Regions from separate parts of the Homo sapiens genome. Here region 2 is linked to region 1. The links come from fine-mapping of genetic effects on gene expression. A gene starts in region 1. The other region holds a variant in brackets. All regions are shown on one strand. Distances are from middle to middle.

The links. PIP is the estimated chance that this variant, and not a neighbour inherited with it, causes the effect.
Region 2: its variant is fine-mapped to the expression of FAM237B in thyroid (GTEx, PIP above 0.99).

Annotation. Positions count from the first base shown.
Region 1 is chr7:90,315,336-90,325,615 of GRCh38, forward strand. It overlaps FAM237B (family with sequence similarity 237 member B), which reads right to left and starts at 5,969. Exons shown (of 3, transcript NM_001384237.2): 1 at 5,587-5,969; 2 at 5,346-5,392; 3 at 1,472-4,416. The coding sequence starts at 4,413. The coding sequence ends at 3,994. It also overlaps a transcript of CFAP69 not described here.
Region 2 is chr7:90,369,412-90,379,691 of GRCh38, forward strand. It overlaps GTPBP10 (GTP binding protein 10), which reads left to right. Exons shown (of 10, transcript NM_033107.4): 5 at 2,744-2,817; 6 at 4,891-4,943; 7 at 8,096-8,203; 8 at 8,723-8,800. Among named protein-coding and RNA genes, the nearest start is that of GTPBP10, 28 kb to the left of the region's middle. The variant C/G (reference allele first, on the strand shown) is at 3,691.

The DNA.
Region 1 (10,280 bases):
AAAGACATGGAATCAACCTAAATGACCATCATGACAGACTGGATAAAGAAAATGTGGTCCATATACACCATGGAATGCTATGCAGCCATAAAAAGAATGAGATCATGTCTTTTGCAAGAACATGGATGGAGGTGGAGGCCATTATCCCTAGCAAACCAACACAGGAACAGAAAACCGAATACCGCATGTTCTCACTTAAGTGGGAGCTAGATGATGAGAACTCATGGACACAAAATGCGGAACAACAGGCACTGAGGCCTACTTGATTGGTGGAGAGTGGGAAGAGGGAGAGGATCAGGAAAAATAACTATTGAGTACTAGGCTTAGTACCGGGGTGACAAAATAATCTGTACAACAAACCCCCGTGAAATGAGTTTACCTATAGAACAAACCTGTATGTGTACCCCTGAACCTAAAACAAAAGTTTAAAAAATAAACAAAATTAAAAGTTTATTTAAAGTTTAAAAAAGATTCTGGCCAGGCTTGGTGGCTTACGCCTGTAATCCCAGCACTTTGGGAGGCAGAGGCAGGTGGATCATCTGAGGTCAGGAGTTTGAGACCAGACTGGTGAACCTGGTGAAACCCTGTCTCTACTAAAACTACAAAAAATTAGCTGGGCATGGTGGCAGGTGCCTATAATCCCACCTACTTGGGAGGCTGAGGCAGGAGAGTCACTTGAACCCGGGAGGCGGAGGCTGCAGTGAGCCAAGATCACGCCATTGCACTCCAGCCTGAGCAACAAGAGCGAAACTCCGTCTCAAAAAAAGAAAAAATAAAGATTCGATAGAAACAGCAGAGGAACTTTAGACATAGATAATTATTATCCCTTGTATCATCTTATGAAGAAATATTTGTGGGGTCAATATTAGATCCTTTGCCACCTTTTTTCTCCTCAGCCTTAAGCTCTCTGAAAAATAATCGGTTATGAGCTAAGCCAAATGAGCTCAGCATAAACCCAAAGCTGTGAAACTGAATCTTTACCATGGTACCACTGCAAGAATTGGTGGTTTGTTTTTTAAAATGATCTCTAGACTGTCAAATGATTTTGAATAGGACAAAAGAGAAATACATATTGTCCCAATTCAGCTTCATTTTGACCACCTTCTTTTTTATCTTCTATTTTGATATCATAAAATTGCTTTTGAATTAGATCTTTCAGTCTATCCCTGCATTGTCCCACTTCAGTGTCAACTCTGTGAGTCAAAGATTACGTCTGGATTGTTCACTAATATACCCTAAAGCTTAATGAATATTTGTTGAATGAATGAATGATGAACAGAAAGAAAAAGTTTTTTTATATGCAGATGACACTATTTGTGCCAAAAACGGGGAGGAATTTACGGTATGTAATCATCATCAAAAAGCTTAAGATGAGTTGTTTTAAAACCAGATTGCCCAGTTTAGCAAATGTTCTTATTTTTAACCCAATGTAGTATGTAAATTCAATTAAAAGAACTAGAAAACCATTTTGCCATTAACTGGAAGACTAATTTTATTGATTTAAGCTAAAATGTTTATCATCGCTGCAATAAAATTGTCATGACAACTATGAGTGATTGAGGACAACTGGTTGAACAATTTTTTAGACTAAAAGTACATGGTCTCACTTTACAGCATTGAACTTTTGAGCTTCAATCATTTGCCCACAGACTGTAAAAGAGAACTGTTTTTTTTGAGGAAAACTGTAATACTGCCTCTAGGTACCACTTCGGCTCCTCTGCAGGAAATGAATTCTAGGTGGATAGCTGTCAGGTCATTTTTTTTTTTTTAGACCAAAAGCAGTTTAATGATAAAGAACACAGATGTTCAATATGGAGATGAGAAAGGACAGGAAAGTTCTTGGCAAGATTAACTCAACTTTTTACTCCTGTCACATAAATGTGACTCCTCTCAAATGAATCATCACTTTTCGATTAGAGCTAAACAGTAATAAAGTGTCAATATGAAAATATGTTGAAATTTAAAAACTCATATCAGACTAATTATTTGTCATATAAATTCCACAAATCAAAAGCTTAATGGACATAAAATCACTCATGTTTACACGCTGTCTGGTCATTTTTATGAGAACATTAATTAGCCCTACCCTCCAACCAGTTGATTTTCTGAGCTTAGGGATCCACCCTTAATTGGCAAGATAAGAAGTTTTCAATCTAGGAAATTATTAGCCCTACAATCTTATATTATCTGCTACTCATGCAAAATTGGTTATATGAAATAATATTGCCGAACGCTATGAGGTCCTTTAATATTGAAAATTCCTAACCTGGGGTTTATGCAGCCCCCTGAAATTACATGCAAAATGTAATTTTAAGAGTGTTTATATATAAAACCCCTAATAAATGGTCTATACATCATCAGAATTTGAAAGTGGTCAATAATGCAAAGAACGTCCCTCCTTTAATTCAGCTTATTCTTGGATCAAGTCAAACCATCAGGCAGTTCGTTACTTGTTCAGTATTATTTTAGCCGATTTTAAAACTTTTTATATTTGAGTTTGAGTGTACTGGAATCAGACTGTAAAGGAGAGAATCTGTCATTGTAAGGATACTTGAAACCAGTGTTGTAAACCATGGTAGCCACTGTGAAAACCTATGGGTGAGATTTTCATTGATTCTTTGTCCTGGAAAAGGCTGGACCTCTGTTGAACATATGGTTTGGTTTTTCTTATAAGCATGTGAATCTTGAAACTGTTCATGTGTCCCTCTTCACTAGGAGAAGTGGGAAACAGACCAAATTTATAGGCACCCTTTATCAAAGGTATAGGCTTTTACGACATGCATTCAAAAAGTATTAATCTAAACCGTAACTCCATTGTATTACTTCCCTGTCTTCATGTCCCAATGTTCCAATTTCCTCCACTACTTCATGTTTTCCTTTTCTTCGGTATATTTCTTTAAAGCTTCACATCCTTTTTGAAATAAGATGTGAGATATAAATAGGCAATATAAAAAATAACTCAGCTAACACAAAAATTCTATCAAATTGTACTTTACTGAAATGAAGTTTCTGTCTTTGTTTATTGTTCCTTTTTCAAAACAAAGACAATAAAAATGAGAACATAAAAAGGTTTTAGTCCTTAATGCATAGAAAAATACTTTAATATAGAAGATGGCTTGGTAATGAAATGTACATTTCAGAAACCACAAAATATACTACATTAAATATTACTTTTTAGGATAATACTGCCATTAGTTTTGGCACAGTTTAATAGTCAATATTAATATATAAGATACCTTATAAAATTGGTTACAATTTTATTCCATTGACTATTGTATCTAAAAAATATATCACATTTGCCTTTTAACTGATGTTTTCTTTAAAACAAAGACACTTTAAAAAGACACCTTCTAAGTAAAAAATTGAGAAATTATCTGAAAATATTGGAATAATTCAATAGCAATAAAGCAATTACAACAAAAAACAACGTTTATCAGTATTAAATAATTTGTATAACTATGACAAGAAATATTTGACCTCATAAATACAAGTTTTCAGGTCGCTGTCATCTTGCTTGAGGTATTTTACATGTTTTCTCTTAAATGTAATACTCTCATTTTGTAAAATCTAGTCCTGTAAGATTTAAAAGAAGAAATTGTTAATATTCATTCCAATATGACTCTTAAATTTCCTGCTTTTATACAACCCTATTGAAAAAATTAATTTCAAAAGCCTAAATACATGTCTGATGTTTAAAATTTCTTCAACAAATGTAATATGAATAATTACAGGGTTAAATGGCTTTCTTATGAACTATTCATGGGCAAACAAGGATAATTTTAATTATCTACCAAAGTGTATTATATTCCAAGATCATTTAAAATTGTAAGTCAGAGCTTGTGTGGTTTGTAAATAATGTAAAATGAGTAAAAATGAGAATCAAAACCTATCATTTTAGGGAAAAAAACTAAATATGGTAAATTTGCTACCTTGTTGGATAACTTGAAAAAAATCAGAAGAATTAAATAGTGACTTTTAAAGAAAAGTAAACTGCTATTCTCTTAAATACACATTTAAATTACCTCCTGTTATTTTCTGTGGAAAATTATATTTGGGGGGCATCACCTGTCTTCTGCCCATTCCATGAGATCTTGAAAGCAAGCAGTCTACATACATGTCCCAGAAATCCTGAGCTATGTTTAAGAAGACATTATAATGTCCAGGCCGCTGAGATTTTTGCAAGAACAACATGAAATTCCAAAAAGCATCCACATTGTGCTCTATCTTGAGTTCCTTGAGATCTATCAATGTCAAAGAGCAAGCTTTCCAGCACTGGAGATCAATGTCTTTGGTGATTCCTGGGCTGATGCTGGCAAGCACTCCTTTTTGAAACTCAAAGTCAGCATTAACCAGATTGATCAGCATCATGCAGCCCAAATGTAGATAGAACCATCTTCTTGTAGCAAAACACATATTCTATACAGAAAAAAAAATGAGAGAGGATATATTTAACTTAAAAAAGTTATTCAATCACTTGATCTAAAAAACTGTAAGTACACATATATTTGCTTTTGATCAAGCCAAATCTGCTTACTAGGTATTCATTTTTTCTAAATTACTGATTATCACATCTTCCTTTAGGATATTACAGTTCCGGTTTGATTTCCAACGTTCTGATCAAGAGTCTTTGAAATGCAACACATTTATGAAAATGCAAAGGTTCATTTCATCACAGACCTTTAAAAGTGGCAGAAACCCTAAAGAGCTTATGCTCCAACCTTCTCCCTTTACTGATTAGATCATTAGTGATACGGTTCCGCAAGTCTTCAGACTCCTGACTGCCTATCCAAGACTCCTACCTACCACAACACATTTCAACTAAGTGGATCAAAATACAGTCCTTTCTACATGTAACATAGGAAGTATTTTGTTGTTGTTAATTGAGATATTATTAACCCAAATGGTACTAGATCTCACAAACACCGTTTAAGTCTCAAAGTTACTGCTATTTCCATTTTCATGTATTGAAAAATACTTGTTACGCACTAATATCCGGTGTATTCTTGGCTTCCCTCTGTTTAGGAGCTGGTTGGAGAAGATGAACGTAGACATACATGAAGTGGCACGAAAACAAAGGTGATATAAGGTAGGATGAGATAGTGCAGGGCCCATTACATTCAGCAAAATCTTGACATTTTTCTAATGCCTCTTTGCATGCCTCCTTGCCAACTGATTGTTGGGTAAAATCGGCCCAAAGCACATAAGAGGAAGTTAAAGACTAAGTTGGCATTGAATTGCCACACACCTGCTATTCAAGGCTGCTGTTGGAAATGTCCCTTTTACAACATTGACAGCCAACGGGGAGGGATAGGGAGAGGAGAACAGATCCAGAACACAGGACTCACCTTTCCCCCCGTACACAGCCGTCTGCCACCTCCCTAAAAAAGTTGGGCTGAAGAGAGAAATCATACGAATCAAATCTAAACAGGACATTCAAGTCATTTCACATCGTCGAAAATTGTGCAAATTCCCCAGACTGAGCTGAAAGCTGGCAGTTTATGATACATGATGTATCAGAGGGAATTTCTTCCCCCTCAATTTCAGGCTAGCGCCTCTCCCTGTGCCCCCAGCCCTGGGTCAGGTCACCTGGGCGCAGAAGAGGGAGGCCACGCGGGAGTCGAGGACCTCTGGTCGCCGTCCGAGGAGCGCGTCCCGGCGCGGTGTCCTGGGTGCGCTACGCTCGTTGGGAGGAGGACGGGGCGCCTCCTGCCCACGAGGAACCAGAGGTTTCAGCGGGGACGACCCCTGCCCAGGGCGCCCTCTGCCCAGCGGACCCACTTCCCGAGGCAGGCGAACTGGGCGAGGCAGCGCTGTGTCACCCACCCCGAGCGCTCACCGGGCGCCCAAGCTCGCTCAGCGGAACCGTCTCGGCCGCGGTGCGCTTCGGCGCTGGGAGGCTCTGGCTGGCACTGGCTCACCGCGGGTGGAGCTGCCGGTTCTGCTGCGGCCACGCGGGGTTCCCGAGACAGACCCGCCGCTGGGACCGCGATCCTTTTCTAGAGGCTGAGTGAGGGGGCAGATCGTGGGTGGCCGCGCTCTCGAGGCCCCTCCCTGACCTCGCCCAACTTCCCAGCCTCCAGACCTCGGGGGCCTCTGCGCCCTGCGGCCCTGCTTTGGCCGCTGCTCTCGCCTCTCCTGCCCTCCTCCGACTTTCTTGCTATGCCAAAGGCTCAGGGTCTTCTTCGCTCTCTCCTTCTTACTTTGTTCCTTCTTTTTTCTTAGCTGAGAAGATCCATCTCGGCATTAGTCAGTCCACATACCCAAGTTATCTTCTCCCTCCGCCCACCCATGCTCCACACCGTATTCTCCTATCCAGAGAAAAATTCTCTTAAGGCTGTGAACTCTCTTAAAATGCTAAACCTCCTTGAACGGTTCTAATCTCTAGCTAAACACAGTTTATTATTAACGCTAACACATACACACGCGCAAACATACCCTTGCTTCTACACTGGGGGAAATGTTTCCTTTATCCCTTCATGGATGAAGACCCGAGCAAGTACCTTGAATTTCACATATGTATGTTGTCCATCAATCTCAGCCCCAACACATCACTTGGACTATATATGAGTTTAAGTCTACCTGCTCTGCCTATAGCCCAGCAGCGATGATCAGATGGGGCTAGGGAAATCAAAGCCAGCTGCCTTATCCCCATTTCCCCTCAGGCAGGCCACCCTTCTCACAGGTTCTTGAGCTGGGATGGTGAGATCATGGGGTGAGATGAGTGCCAAACCAAACAGCCCAGTTCCCCAGTCATTGTCCCTGCTAAAGCTCACTTCTCCCAGCACCCACCATTATTCAAAGCTCCACCCTGTTCTCATCCTGTTGGTGGAGCTAACGTAGTCAATCATTAGTTCTGCCCTGGCAATGCCTTTTTATGCCCCTTCTATCTGCAGGACCACCTCCTGCACAAAACAGAACTGAGAAAAGGGGAAGACTTGTTTACTCGGATTAGGTAGGATATACACGAATCCATCTCACACCAGATATTCTTCTGCTGTAGACTTCCAAGTGTTTCAGTCCACCATTAATCATGGACTCTCACAATTAGCAGAGATGCAGAGTGACCTAATCCAACATCCCAGCTGAAACGTGAACAAACCACCCTCCCAAGGAATTTGTCCACCCACCAAAGCTGTTTTCCAATGTGACTTAACCTTGGGCACATGTCCCCACCCCCAAAGGAAGCAACCCCTTCCATCTTTGGGTTAATGTTGGCTTCCTTCTAAAATGAATTGGCTCAATTTCTCTGTTGAGTAACCACATAGTTCCTGTCCGTCTTTTTTGAAAGATATACTTTATTTTTCATAAAACATTTTTATCTGTTTACAAGTATTCAAAACCTATTGAAAAGTTGTAAAATACAGAAAAATGTAAGGAGACAGGTAATAGTTGTCATTAAAATGCATTTTTAAAGAATATTCTAATATTAGAATTAGAGTAATGTACTAAATAGGAGTACATATTTGGGTATGATTATTATAACACACACACAGGAATGGTATTCTGAATAGAGAACTTATATAAATCAATAATAGAAAAATAAGGGTAATTGACAGAAGAGTAGACCTTAATATTCAGTAAACATGAGAAAAAATACTGAAATATTCTAAATTTAGATAGACTTAATAACAAAGCCATTTCAAGGAAATGATATATTGTCTTCCCCAAATGAAGCTTAACAAAAATTAATTTGGTAAAATACAATCTCAGCAATTTTTTGAGAAAATGAACACTTCATATGCTTTTGATGAGACTATCAGCTGGTATAATCACCAAGGAAGAAAACTGGCATTATCTGTTTAATCTGAAAGTGATCTAGAAATTTTACTCTTGGTGTCTACCCCCAAGTCAGTGAGAGAAGATATTCTTTATGTGAGTGATTTTTCTGAAGGGTCTACTTGCTACATTCAAATAGAATCTGGCAAAATGATGACAAACATAATTTTTAAATCATCATTGGGTGATCAAGAAAGTGAAATCTCCAGGGAAAAGGCGGATGGAGGCAAAGCATAAAGAATCAGAATATGGAAAAGAAGAAAGAAGAGAAAGAGAGAAGGAAGAGAGGAAAGTGAGATGTAGATAGTAAGTTTAGGCTTTATTAAAACTGGTATCTACAGTAAAAAGTGAGATATAGATATTGAATTTAGACTTTGCAAAGTTGTTAAATATGTATGGTAAAATTTCTCAGGCAATTCCTAAATGACGGAAATAGAGAACAAAACTCTTGAACCAGGGAGAAAAACAGATTGACAAATAAAAAATTAATTGAGAAAGCAAGAAGAGAGAAAAAAGCACAGCAAAAGTGACAAGTAGAAAGTAAATTTATAAGATTCAAGTCAACAATCATAATAATAGTCTGAACTTCTTGATTAAAGGAAGGAAGATGTGGTTGGATTTTAAATTCTGCTATGTGCTTTTACAAAAGATACACACACCCAAAATGAGGACAGAGAAACTTGAAAAGAATGGAAACAAATATACCATGCACATGTTAATTGTATTTTAAACTGACAGCTTTATTAATACAAAAAAGCACGATGAAGGAGAAAGGGGAACACTACATAATGATAAAAGACTCAATTCAGGAAGAAGATAAAAATATTCTAAATTTAGATATACCTAATAACGAAGCTACAGAATACATAAAACAAAAACTGACAGAAGTAGAGGGAAATTTTCACAAACTCACTATCATAGTGGGAGAGTTCCACAAGCCTTTAGGTTAAGATGATAAATAATACTAAATGTGTAGATGATTTGAACCGTCAAGTTATAAGGAACCATGAAACTTGCAGTTAAAGAACACATTCCTCCCATTAGAAAATAAAGCAAGTCTCGGGTGCAGCACACCAACATGGCACATGTATACATATGTAACAAACCTGCATGTTGTGCACATGTACCCTAAAACTTAAAGTATAATAATAATAAAATAAAAGAAAAAATAAAGTCTCATGAAATTTAAAGCAAGTCTCAACAAATTTCAAAAACTAGTATCACTCAAACTTCGTTGCCTGACCACAACACAGAAAGTTTAAAAGTCTAAAAAGTGTTTTAAGAAATATAAAAACAAGAACGTAGTTTTTCATGTTTTGAAATTTAAACAATAAATGTACTTATTTATGCAATAACTTTAAACAATCGATTTTAAAATAAAATACAATGGAAATTATAAAATATTTCAAACTGTGTGATTAAAAAACATTGCATATCAAAACTTGTGAGAAGCCAGTAAGAGGATCCTTTAAAGGAAATTAACAGCTTTAAACACTTGTGCCAAAAGAAGAGAGGCTGAAAATCTGATAGAGTGATAAATGCAACCAAATTTAACAGCTGGTAAAATAGCAGAAAAAAGGCTCTCAAAAGTTAAGAGATTTTACAAAAACACACATTAGTGAACTAAGGCAAAAAGAGTTGATTCTTTGAATAAAATAAAGCAACCTCTGATGAGGCTGATCAAGAAAGAAAATGAAAGGTAGAAAATGATATATATCTATAGATAGCAAATAAAGATTAAAACTAGATACACGAATACTAACAACCAACATATACCATATATTTGAAATTTTAAATTAAATTAATAAATTCCTAGAAAAAATATCTATAAAACTTGGCCAGGCGCAGTGGCTCACGCCTATAATCCTAGCACTTTGGGAGGCTGAGGCAGGTGGATCACCTGAGGTCCAAAGTTCGAGACCAGCCTGGTGAACATGGCGAAAACCCATCTCTACTAAAAATACAAAAATTAGCCAGGCATGGTGGCGCGTGCCTGTAATCCCAACTGCCCAGAAGGCTGCGGCAGGAGAATCGGTGGAAACCAGGAGACGGAGGCTGCAGTGAGCCGAGATCGCACCACTGCACTCTAGCCTGGGCGACAAAGAAAGACTATGGAAAATAAAAAGAAAAAAGAAAAAAATCTATAACAGTCATGTAAGAATAACTACAAAGCCAGAATAGTAAATGCTGTTTAAAGACCTTGAATAAGTAGTTTAAAATCTTCCCACTGGGAAAAAAAAAATCAAGCCCATATGATTTTGCAGGGCAACTTTCAAGGATCAAGTACTTCCTGAAAATTAGAAAAGAAGGAAATCTCCCAGACTCATTCTAACAAAATGAGACAAGGACGATCTGAAAAAGAGTAAAGTCACAGGCCATCTTACTAATGATTACAGATAAAAATAAATTCTAAACAAAATATTGACATACCAAATTCAGTAGGACTTAGAAAAAACCCAGCAGTATCAAGCTTGGATTATCCTAGGGATGCACGGGTAGTTTAA
Region 2 (10,280 bases), 54 kb after region 1:
TAGAGAGGCAGTAGGCCTTGCTGAGATGTGGTGGACTCCACCCATTTCGAGCTTCCAGGCCTCTTTGTTTACACTGTCAGCACAAAACCGCCTCCTCAAGCCTCAGCAATTGCGGATACCCCTCCACCTGCCAAGCTGCAGCTCATGGCAGGTCAATCTCAGACTGCTGCGCTAGCAGTGAGCAAGGCTCCGTTGGCTTGGGACCTGCTCAGCCAGGCACGGGAGGATATTTCCTGGTCTGCCGATTGCAAAGACTTGGGGAAAAGCGCAGTATTTAGGCAGGAGTGTACCACTCCTCCAGGTACAGACTGTCACGACTTCCCTTGGCTAGGAAAGGAAAATCCCCCGATCCCTTGTGCTTCCCGGGTGAAGCAACGCCCCACCCTGCTTTGGTTTGCCCTCCATGCACTGCACCCACTGCCCAACCCGCCACATTGAGATGAACCAGGTACCTCAGTTGGAAATGCAGAAATCACCCATCTTCTGTGTCGATCTTGCTGGGAGCTGTAGACCAGAGCTGTTCCTATTTGGCCATCTTGGAACTTAACTCTTACAAAGACGTACAGAGTGTTATAATGGGCATTGGAGACTCAGAGGGAGGAAGGATAGGAGGGCAGTGAGGGATGCAAAACTACCTATTGGGTACAATGTACACTGCTTGGGTGATGGGTACACTAAAATTCACTGTTGAGTGAGAATGCAAATTAGTACAACCTATATGGAAACAGTATGGAGATTTCTCAAAGAACTGAAAGTAGAAATATCATTTCATCCAGCAATCCCACTACAGGATATCTACCCAAAGGAAAAGAAGTCATTATATTAAAAAGATACCTGCACACATGTTTATCACAGTATCATTCAGAATTGCAAAGACATGGAATCAACCTTAGTGCCCATCAACCAATGAATGAAGAAAATTGAGTGTGTGTGTGTGTGTGTGTGTGTATCTATATATACACACACACCATAGAATACTACTCAGCCATAAAAAAGAATGAGGACATCTTCCTAAGTGAAGTAACTCAGGAACGGAAATCCAAGTGCCACATATTGTCACTTATAAGTGGGAGCTAAGCTGTGCGTACACAGAGGCATGCAGAGTGGTATAATGGACATTGGAGACTCGGAGGGAGGACAGGAGGATGGGGAGGGATGAAAAACTATCTGTTGGGTACAATGTACACTACTTGGGTGATGGGTACACTAAAATCCTGGACTTCACCATTACACAATGTATCCATGTAACAACAACAACAAAAAAATCACTTGTACCCCTAAAGCTATTGAAATAAAAACATTAAAAGAAATAGGTCGGACATGGTGGCTCACACCTGTAATCCCAGCACTCTGGGAGGCCAAGGTGGGCAGATCACGAGGTCAGGAGATTGAGACCATCCTGGCTAATATGGTGAAACCCCATCTCTACTGAAAATACAAAAAAAATTAGCCAGGCATTGTGGCGGGCGCCTGTAGTCCCATCTACTTGGGAGGCTGAGGCAGGAGAATGGCGTGAACCGGGAGGTGGAGCTTGCAGTGAGCCAAGATCACGCCACTGCACTCCAGCCTGGGCAACAGAGCGAGACTCCATCTCAATAGATAAATAAATAAATAAATAAATAAATAAATAAATAAATAGATATGAGCTATTAAGCTATGAAAAGATGAAAAAAGTTGCAAAAGTTTAAAGATAGTCATTGCATTGTTTAAAGTTATTTTAAAAAAACAAATAATACACACTTGTTTGCATAAAGAAAAAGTTGTCTATGAATTCCACCACCCAGAGATGACTATTAACAGTGTCTGTCTACCTGTATACACATTTTTTACAATGTTGTTTAGAGTGAAAAATTGTAGACAACCTGAAAGTCTGTCAATAGGAAATTAGTTAAGTAAATTACACTTCACCATTGAAAAGTGTTCACCTTATATGATTCAGTTTAAAGAGTAGGCCAAGCAACTATAAAGTAGTTTTCCCCTACTTCCTTCAAAAAAATATGAAAACTTGAACATTAAGACTCTATAAAAACTGCCAATTTTTTGCAGACAATAGAGGGAAAAAGAGCATGTTAAGTGTCCATGTAGGTGCTAGTAGAAAAATGAAGACTTTGGAAAAGAAACTCTGTAGGACAACTGACCCAGTTTCTTTAAAAATAAAATTGCAGATAGGAAACAAGATGGTAGGGGGAGCTTGAAAATAGATTTGAGACACACCGGGTATTTGTAACGTACAGACCTTACTTGGATTTCTATTCAAACCAAATTTTAAGAAGTATATTGCCAATGTATTAATATTTGTTGAAGCTAGGTGATAGCTAAATGGAATTCATTACACCTCTCTACTTTTGTATATGTTTGAAACTGTCTATAAAATTTTTTTTTAAAGCAGTTTACAAAACAAGGTAATGTTTTGTCAGTGTATAGCTGGAGTTAGAAAGTTACAGGTGTTTTTCTTTTTTTTCTTTAATTTCTGTTTTTTCTATGACTTCCAATGGGTTTTTATTTTTAAATCATAATTGGAATAATTATTATACACTTTAAATATTGAAACATCTTCAGTGTCCAGCATGAATTTATCTTTACCTTTTATGTAAGTGTATGTTCTCAAGTTTTTCAAGATTATTTATAATACATTTATATTCTACTTTTAATCCCAAATATATTCATGAAGTCTACTTGAATTGTTAGGAATTCAGAGATAATAATATTGACATTTGTGTATAATTTTATATTCTTGTTTCAGATTCCCAAATGCTGGAAAATCCTCTTTGCTAAGTTGTGTTTCTCATGCAAAACCTGCAATTGCAGATTACGCATGTAAGTGTAATTTGATTGTACATTTTAATGAGTGGAGGTAAACTTTTAAAGACTAATATTTCTCTGAGAATGAATAAAATGATAACTCGGAGGGTATCCTTAACTGAAAAATTTTTGGCAGATAGACTACTGTTGCACAGGCCAAAGTGCAGTTGCATGATCATGGCTCACTGCAGCCCAGGCTCAAGCCATCCCCCTGCATCAGCCTCCCATGTAGATGGGACTACAGGTATGTGCCACCATGCTTGGCTAACTTTTTTTTTTTTTTTGTGGGGACAGGGGTTTCGCCATGTTGCCCAGGCTGGTCTTGAACTCCTAGGCTCAAGTGATCTCCCACCTTGGCCTTCTAAATTGCTGGGTTATAGGTGTGAGCCACCCTCCCCAGCCATATTTTCCATTAATCTTTGAAACCTCTATACCCCTCAGCAAAGTTGCTTAAACAGGTTAGACACTTACTTTATTGCATTTATTTTTCTGTCACAGAATCGTTTATTTGGTTTAGTTAGGATTTTATGAACCACTTACCTTTTATCAGGCACTGTGATAAGTACCAGGAAGGTACTTATCATTCATTTAGCAGATACTTATTTTTGGAGCCACATTAGGTTCTGGGATTACAAAGACTGATAAACAGAAACAGCTCCTGTTTTGACTTGTATTGAGTTTGTAGACTAGTGGAGTAAGGCGTACATATCACTAATAAATATAAGGGAATATGAAAGGGTACTATGAAAGAGTATAGATGACTGCTCTAGGCTTCCTTAAGGATGTGTGATTTTTGGACTGGGATATGAGGAATAATTATGAGGTAATTAGTAAAATAGAGTGGAGGGTGAAGGGTCTTTAATCAGAGGAAATAGTATGTACACAAAG[C/G]CTTAGTGGTGGCAGGGAGTAGATTTGTGTGTCTAGAGAACATGAAATAAGGGAAAGAATCGAGATGAGCCTGGAGATGTAAGAGAGCATGTCACATAGACCATTTAGGCTGTATTTGATTTTTATATCTTAAGAGCAATTGGAAGCATTTAAGCAAGGGATAAAATGCTTAGGTTTGCTCCTCACAGAGATCTCGGCCTGTAATGTAGAAAATGGATTGGTGTGGGACATGAAGGGTCTGAGACAACCAGTTAGTAGGCTCTTGTGGTAGCTAGATGAGATATAAAAGAAGCTTTGGTTAAAAGTAGTGAGTATGATAAGATCTCTGCCATCATTAAAAGGACACAGAATGCCATTAACTTGGAAAATAAAATCAAGCCATTCTAAAATTAGACTGTGACGAAGTAGAGTGAAGTTTGGACTAAGTGCTATAAATCACAAGGCCAATATTTGTTATAATATATGTAGGACTTGAGAAGGAAGAGCAAAAAGTCATAGGAAAGAGGCTAGCGTAGGATTGATGAGGCTTAAGGATAACAATGAGAAGGAACTAGAGGATAACTGAATGAGAAGGAACTAGAAAAATTTCAGCCACAGATCCAGTGATAGAAACTTAATATCTGACCCTCCTGAACATCTATCACTCACCTTAAAGTGCAATAGAAGAACGTTGAGGTTCAGTAATTACATTAGGCCTATACAGATTATAAAAATCTGTGTTTGTCTTTTTCCAAATACTATTTATTCATTTATTTTAGAGACAGGGTCTAGCTATGTCACCCAGGCAGGAGTACAGTGGCATGATCATACCTCACTGTAACTTTGAACTCCTGGGCTCAAGCAATCCTCCCACCTCAGCCTCTGGAGTAGCTAGGACTACAGGTGCACTGCCATGTCTGCCTAGTTTTACATTTTTTGTAGAAACAGGGTCTCACTATGCTGCCCAGGCTCATCTTGAACTCCTAGCTTCAAATGATCCTCCTGCCTTGGCTTCCCAAAGCATTGGGATTACAGACATGAGCCACAACATTTGGCCCTCCAAGTACATATTAAATAGCAAAGATAATAATAGTTTCCATTTTAGCAAATTAGAACAAAATCTGAATTGAAATATTGTTTATGCATAATACCAAGACAGTTTTGAGAGTACCAGCCCTAAAATAAATTCTAGCCTTAATTTATTGCTGTGTTTCCTTTTAGTTACAACATTAAAGCCTGAACTTGGAAAGATAATGTACAGTGATTTCAAACAGGTAGGTATTTTTAAAGTAAAACACTATATTAGAAGTCAAAAGTACTTGGTTTTGGTACGTACTTGGATATTATAGTTTTTGCCTGTTTCTGTGGTGTTAGGGGAGAAAAAGTAACAAGATTTTGTTTATGCTAAGTGAAACTGGTCAAATTAATTCTGAGCACTATCATAATATATTTAATTTCTTCTTCCAAAGATTAGGTCCAGTTTATCCCTACAACATTATGTCTTCTTCTTAGCCTTAGTTTCTTCTTATTGCAAGTCTTTCTTTTACTACTATATTGGATTATTTATCTTCATTTTTTAAAAATGCTCTCTAAAGTTCATGGTAATGATTTTATTCCAACTTTTCTTTTTTTGAGAAAGAAAATGTTTTAATGGAGTTTTGGTCTCAACCAGCTATTAAAATTCATTTTTTCCTTCACAAGTAACAACAGTGGATCTTCTGTATAATTAGAAAAAAACTAAAAAAAGGAAAGTAACAATATTTAAAATATAATGTACAATCTAGTAGTTGTGCTCCTTAGCATTTACCCATGTACATTGAAAAGTTATGCACACACAGAAGTCTGCACATGGATGCTTATAGCAGCTTTATTTGTAATTACCAAACCTTGGCCAAGATATCTTTCAGTAGGTGAATGGGTAAATAAACTGTGATATATATTTAGACAGTGGATTATTATTCAGCTCTAAAAAGAACTGGGCTATCAAGCCTCAAAAAGACCTAGGGGAACCTTAAATGCGTAATACTAAGTGAGAGAAGCCAATCTGAAAAGACTGTGTGATACTGTATGATTCTAACTATATGACATTCTGGATAAGGCAAAGCTGTGGAGACAGTAAAAAAAAAAAATGAATGATTTCCAGGGTTAGGGAGGAAGGAGAGATGAATAAGCAGAGTACAGAGAACTTTTAGGGTACACTATAAAGTACAATACATATAGTAAAGTATGATACTATATAATATTACAGCAACATTGTGTTGCTGTAATGGTAGACACAGTATACATTTGTTAAAATCCATAGAATGTACAGCACCAAGAATGCAACAATGTAAAGTATAGACTTTGGGTGCTAACGATGCATCAATATGGGTTCATACAGTTTTATGACATAATTTAAAGAAACATAAAAAAGTATTTGGTTATAATAGTGATAATAACAGTAAAAGATAAAACCAGTTATAATATAGAATGTTAACTGTAAGTAAAATTGTATTAAATATAGGATAATATGAATATATAGAACAATATTTAGAGGAAAAGAGAACATCATTTATACCGAATTTTTAAGGGAAATCAGTAGAGGAAATTTCAGGACATGAGACTTCTGTTGTGCATGCTGCTTTGTCAGCTTCCTTTAAGACCCTGAATTATTTATCTACACTGGGCAAGGGATGTCGAGTACTGCCTCTCATTCTTTATTGCACTTCAGAATTATCTGGGTGGTCTAAGAACAGCAATGATGAGTGATGCTTAGGCCCCAGAGATTTGAAACTAAATCTCTTGGGGGTAGGGCCTGGGCATTTGTAGCTTCTAAGAGTTCCCTACGTGATTATGATGCACAGTGAGGTTTGAAAAGCACAAGTGGCCGGGTGTGGTGGCTTACACCTGTAATCCCAGCACTTTGGGAGGCCAAGGCAGGCAGATCACGAGGTTAGGAGATCGAGACCATCCTGGCTAACATGGTGAAACCCTGTCTCTACTAAAAATACAAAAAAAAAAAAAAATTAGATGGGTGTGGTGGTGGGTGCCTGTAGTCCCAGCTACTCCAGAGGCTGAGGCGGGAGAATGGCGTGAACCTGGGAGGTGGAGCTTGCAGTAAGCCAAGATTGCCCCACTCCACTCCAGGCTGGGCGACAGAGCGAGACTCTCTCAAAAAAAGAAAAGAAAAGCACAAGTGTAAAATGATGGTTAATAATGATTATTCCCTCTAAAAGGAGTCTAGGAAACTGTATTCTTTTATTATGTTGGTACAAAAGTAACTGTGGTTTTGGCCATTAAAAGTAATGGCCAAAAGTAGGAGAAAGTAGGAGAGCCACAACTACAACTTGGGTTTGTCGAGTGCTGTTTCACCTGACTGATCTTACTTGAATACTGGCACAAAATGAGATGATGACAAGGTGACAAGGAAGCATGCTCAGGTGAATGAACTTCTAGATGATAGAACTCTGCTCCTCATGTAATGCCATGAGATTTGCTTAAGTATAAACAATAATGACCTACAAAAATGTGAAGCATTAACAAACATGGCACTGCAAAGAACAGGTGAGGAGAATCACACCTCTATTAATGTAGTAAAGTCTCTTAAAAGTAATGCCAAAACCACAGTTACTTTTATACCAACCTAATACTTTGTAAGAATGGTCGATAATCCTGCTAGTATAATATGAACAGAAAAGGAACAATTGGTGCCAAATAAATAATTACAAATTGAATTTAAAATACAGAGCTGTACCTGGTAAATGTCTGCTGAATTAATAACCTCATAGATTTTTACGAATTTGGAGTATAAAGGTTGAAATTCTGTGAAAAGTTCATATTGGACAATACCATTTAGGAAATTATAAATAAATTTTAAACTAGGGATTAGTGTGGTGGCTCACGCCTGTAATCCCAGCACTTTGGGAGGCTAAGGTGAGAGGATCACTTGAGGATAGGAGTTTGAGAGCAGCCTGTGCAAGATAGCGAGACCCTGTCTCTACTAAAATTTTTTTAGTTAACTGGGCATGGCGGTACGCACCTGGAGTCTTAGCTACTTGGGAGACTGAGGTGGGAACATAGCTTGAGCCCAGGAGTTTGAGGCTACAGTGATCTATGGTCACACCACTGCACTCCAGCCTGGGTGACAGAGCAAGATCCTGTCTCTAAAATAATAATAATAAATAAATAAACAAATGTTAAACTAATCTGTAAAATTCCTAGATTATTAGATTAATAGTAAATATGGGACTCTAATATCTGATAACAAAATTTTAATTCTTAATACTGTACATTAATTTTACTCTTATACTTGGCTTTTCAAAGATGTAGTGGTAATCATAAGTTAGGAACTGTTTATATTTGAAATATCTTAAAAATTTTGGGATGTAATTGAACTTGCGGTTTTCATACATTTTCCTTTTTCATTAACCATTTAACTTTGTATTAGATATCAGTAGCTGATCTTCCGGGTTTAATAGAAGGAGCACATATGAACAAAGGAATGGGCCACAAATTCCTCAAGCATATAGAAAGAACTAGACAACTACTTTTTGTTGTAAGTCATATGTATACTAATGTGATATTCAAATAAATTGAAAACCAGTGAATTTAGTTTTTCTAGAATTTTTTTATAAATAAGAAAGTGGTAGCATATGTTACTCCACTAAGTCTTTTATAATATGGGGATGGAAGTGACATTGTTTACTATATCATATGTAAGTTTGGCCATACTTGCCAACATGTATTTCCTTAAGATTTCCAGCATACTACCATATTATATAGTATCATAGTATCTCTTTCATTCTTCACTGATGATGCTAGAGTTATATATGAGATTGTCTTCATACAAATTGTCTTATCCTAGTTTTTTATTTTATTAATAACTGTAATTTTATCAGAATAATTAAAGTTATCTTAACACCTCGATTTCTGTTACTTATTTTGAATTACTAAGTAACAAGTAGAGTATAGAGAAATTGTTTTTAGCTTGAGAGAGTAAAACATTTTAAAACATAGAAATGTATAGCTATTCTTCGTATGTTAAAGGCTGTCTCTTTCCTTCTCTTTTTTTTAGGTTGATATTTCTGGATTTCAGCTTTCTTCTCACACTCAATACAGGACAGCTTTTGAAACCATAATACTGCTTACAAAAGTAGGTTTTCTGTTTTACTGTGTTCTGTATTTGGTCTAATACATAGGAATGTAAGACTATATGAAATAACATAATTACAGTCTATACATACTCCACCTTTAAAGCTTTGATGTCAGTTAAAGAATTACTTAAACTTGTTGTCTCCATTTCCTCTACATTCATTTGCTCCTCAAACTACTGCAGTGGATAAAACACTCCTGGGCTTCCAAATCCCCATTACATACTTCCCAGGTTTTTATCTTGCTTCAGCTTTGGCACATTGTTTAATTCCTCTTGTTTCTCATTCTTAGTTTTGTGACCGGTAATCTTCTGGTTCTATTTCTACTCTTACACTATTTCTCCGTCTACTTTTTAGGCTCTTTTTTCTCATCCTTTAAGTAACATTATTCAGAGTTCTGTCCTAACCTTATTTTCTATCTTACTCACTCCCGTTGCTTTAGTTACAATTAATAATATTGATGACTGCCAGATCTGTAGCTGATACCTAAATCTTTTCATTGTTCTTTCTTTTTTTTTGAGACAGAGTCTTGCTCTGTCTGCCAGGCTGTAGTGCAGTGGCATGATCTCGGCTCTCTCTGTCTCCCGGGCTCAAGTGATTCTCCTGCCTCAGCCTCCCGAGTAGCTGGGATTACAAGCGTGTGCCACCACGCCCGGCTAATTTTTGTATTTTTAGTAGAGACAGGGTTTCACCATGTTGGCCAGGCTGGTCTCAAACACCTGACCACAGGTAATCCACCCACCTTGGCCTCCCAGAGTGTTGGGATTACAGGTGTGGGCCATTGCACCTGGCCTTTGTTGTTCTTTAGACCAGATGCCCATCGGACATCTTCTTTGACTAGATGTCCCATTAGTCACTTAAACTTAATATGGATAAAAGTAAACTTTTAAAAAACTTTTCGGCCATCCCCATAACTTAGTGAATGTGTAAGCTATGATATACTGATTCTTCTCACCACCTACACAAGCCCTGTCAGTTTTTTATCCTAAATCTCTCTGAAATCCATCCTCTTGTCTTTATCTACGCTGTTATAATCATCAGCCCTTCTTATTGGAATATTGAATCTGGTCCTTTCCATTCTCCCTGTGTCCTGCCTTGCTTCTCTCCAGTCCATTTTTTATATGGCAGCTAGAGTGATCTTTGTAAAAGCACCAAGCTGATGCTGATGTTCCCTGCCTAAAACACTTTGATAGACCCCCATAGCTGTTAGGTTAAAGTCTAACCTGAGCATGATTTATGAAATCTGCAAGTTTAGGCCCCTACCTAGCAGTCCTCCTCTGTAACCCTCTCCCCTAGATGCTATATTTCAGCCATGTGATTTCTCTCTAAGACAACATGGTATTGCCTTACCTCCAGGATTTTATAGATCCTATTTCATTTGCCACTTTTTGTCTATAATGAATAATACTGCTGTGAACATTTGTATGCAGGTTTTTGTATAGACATGTTTTCATTTCTCTTGGATGTATACTTAGGAGTGGA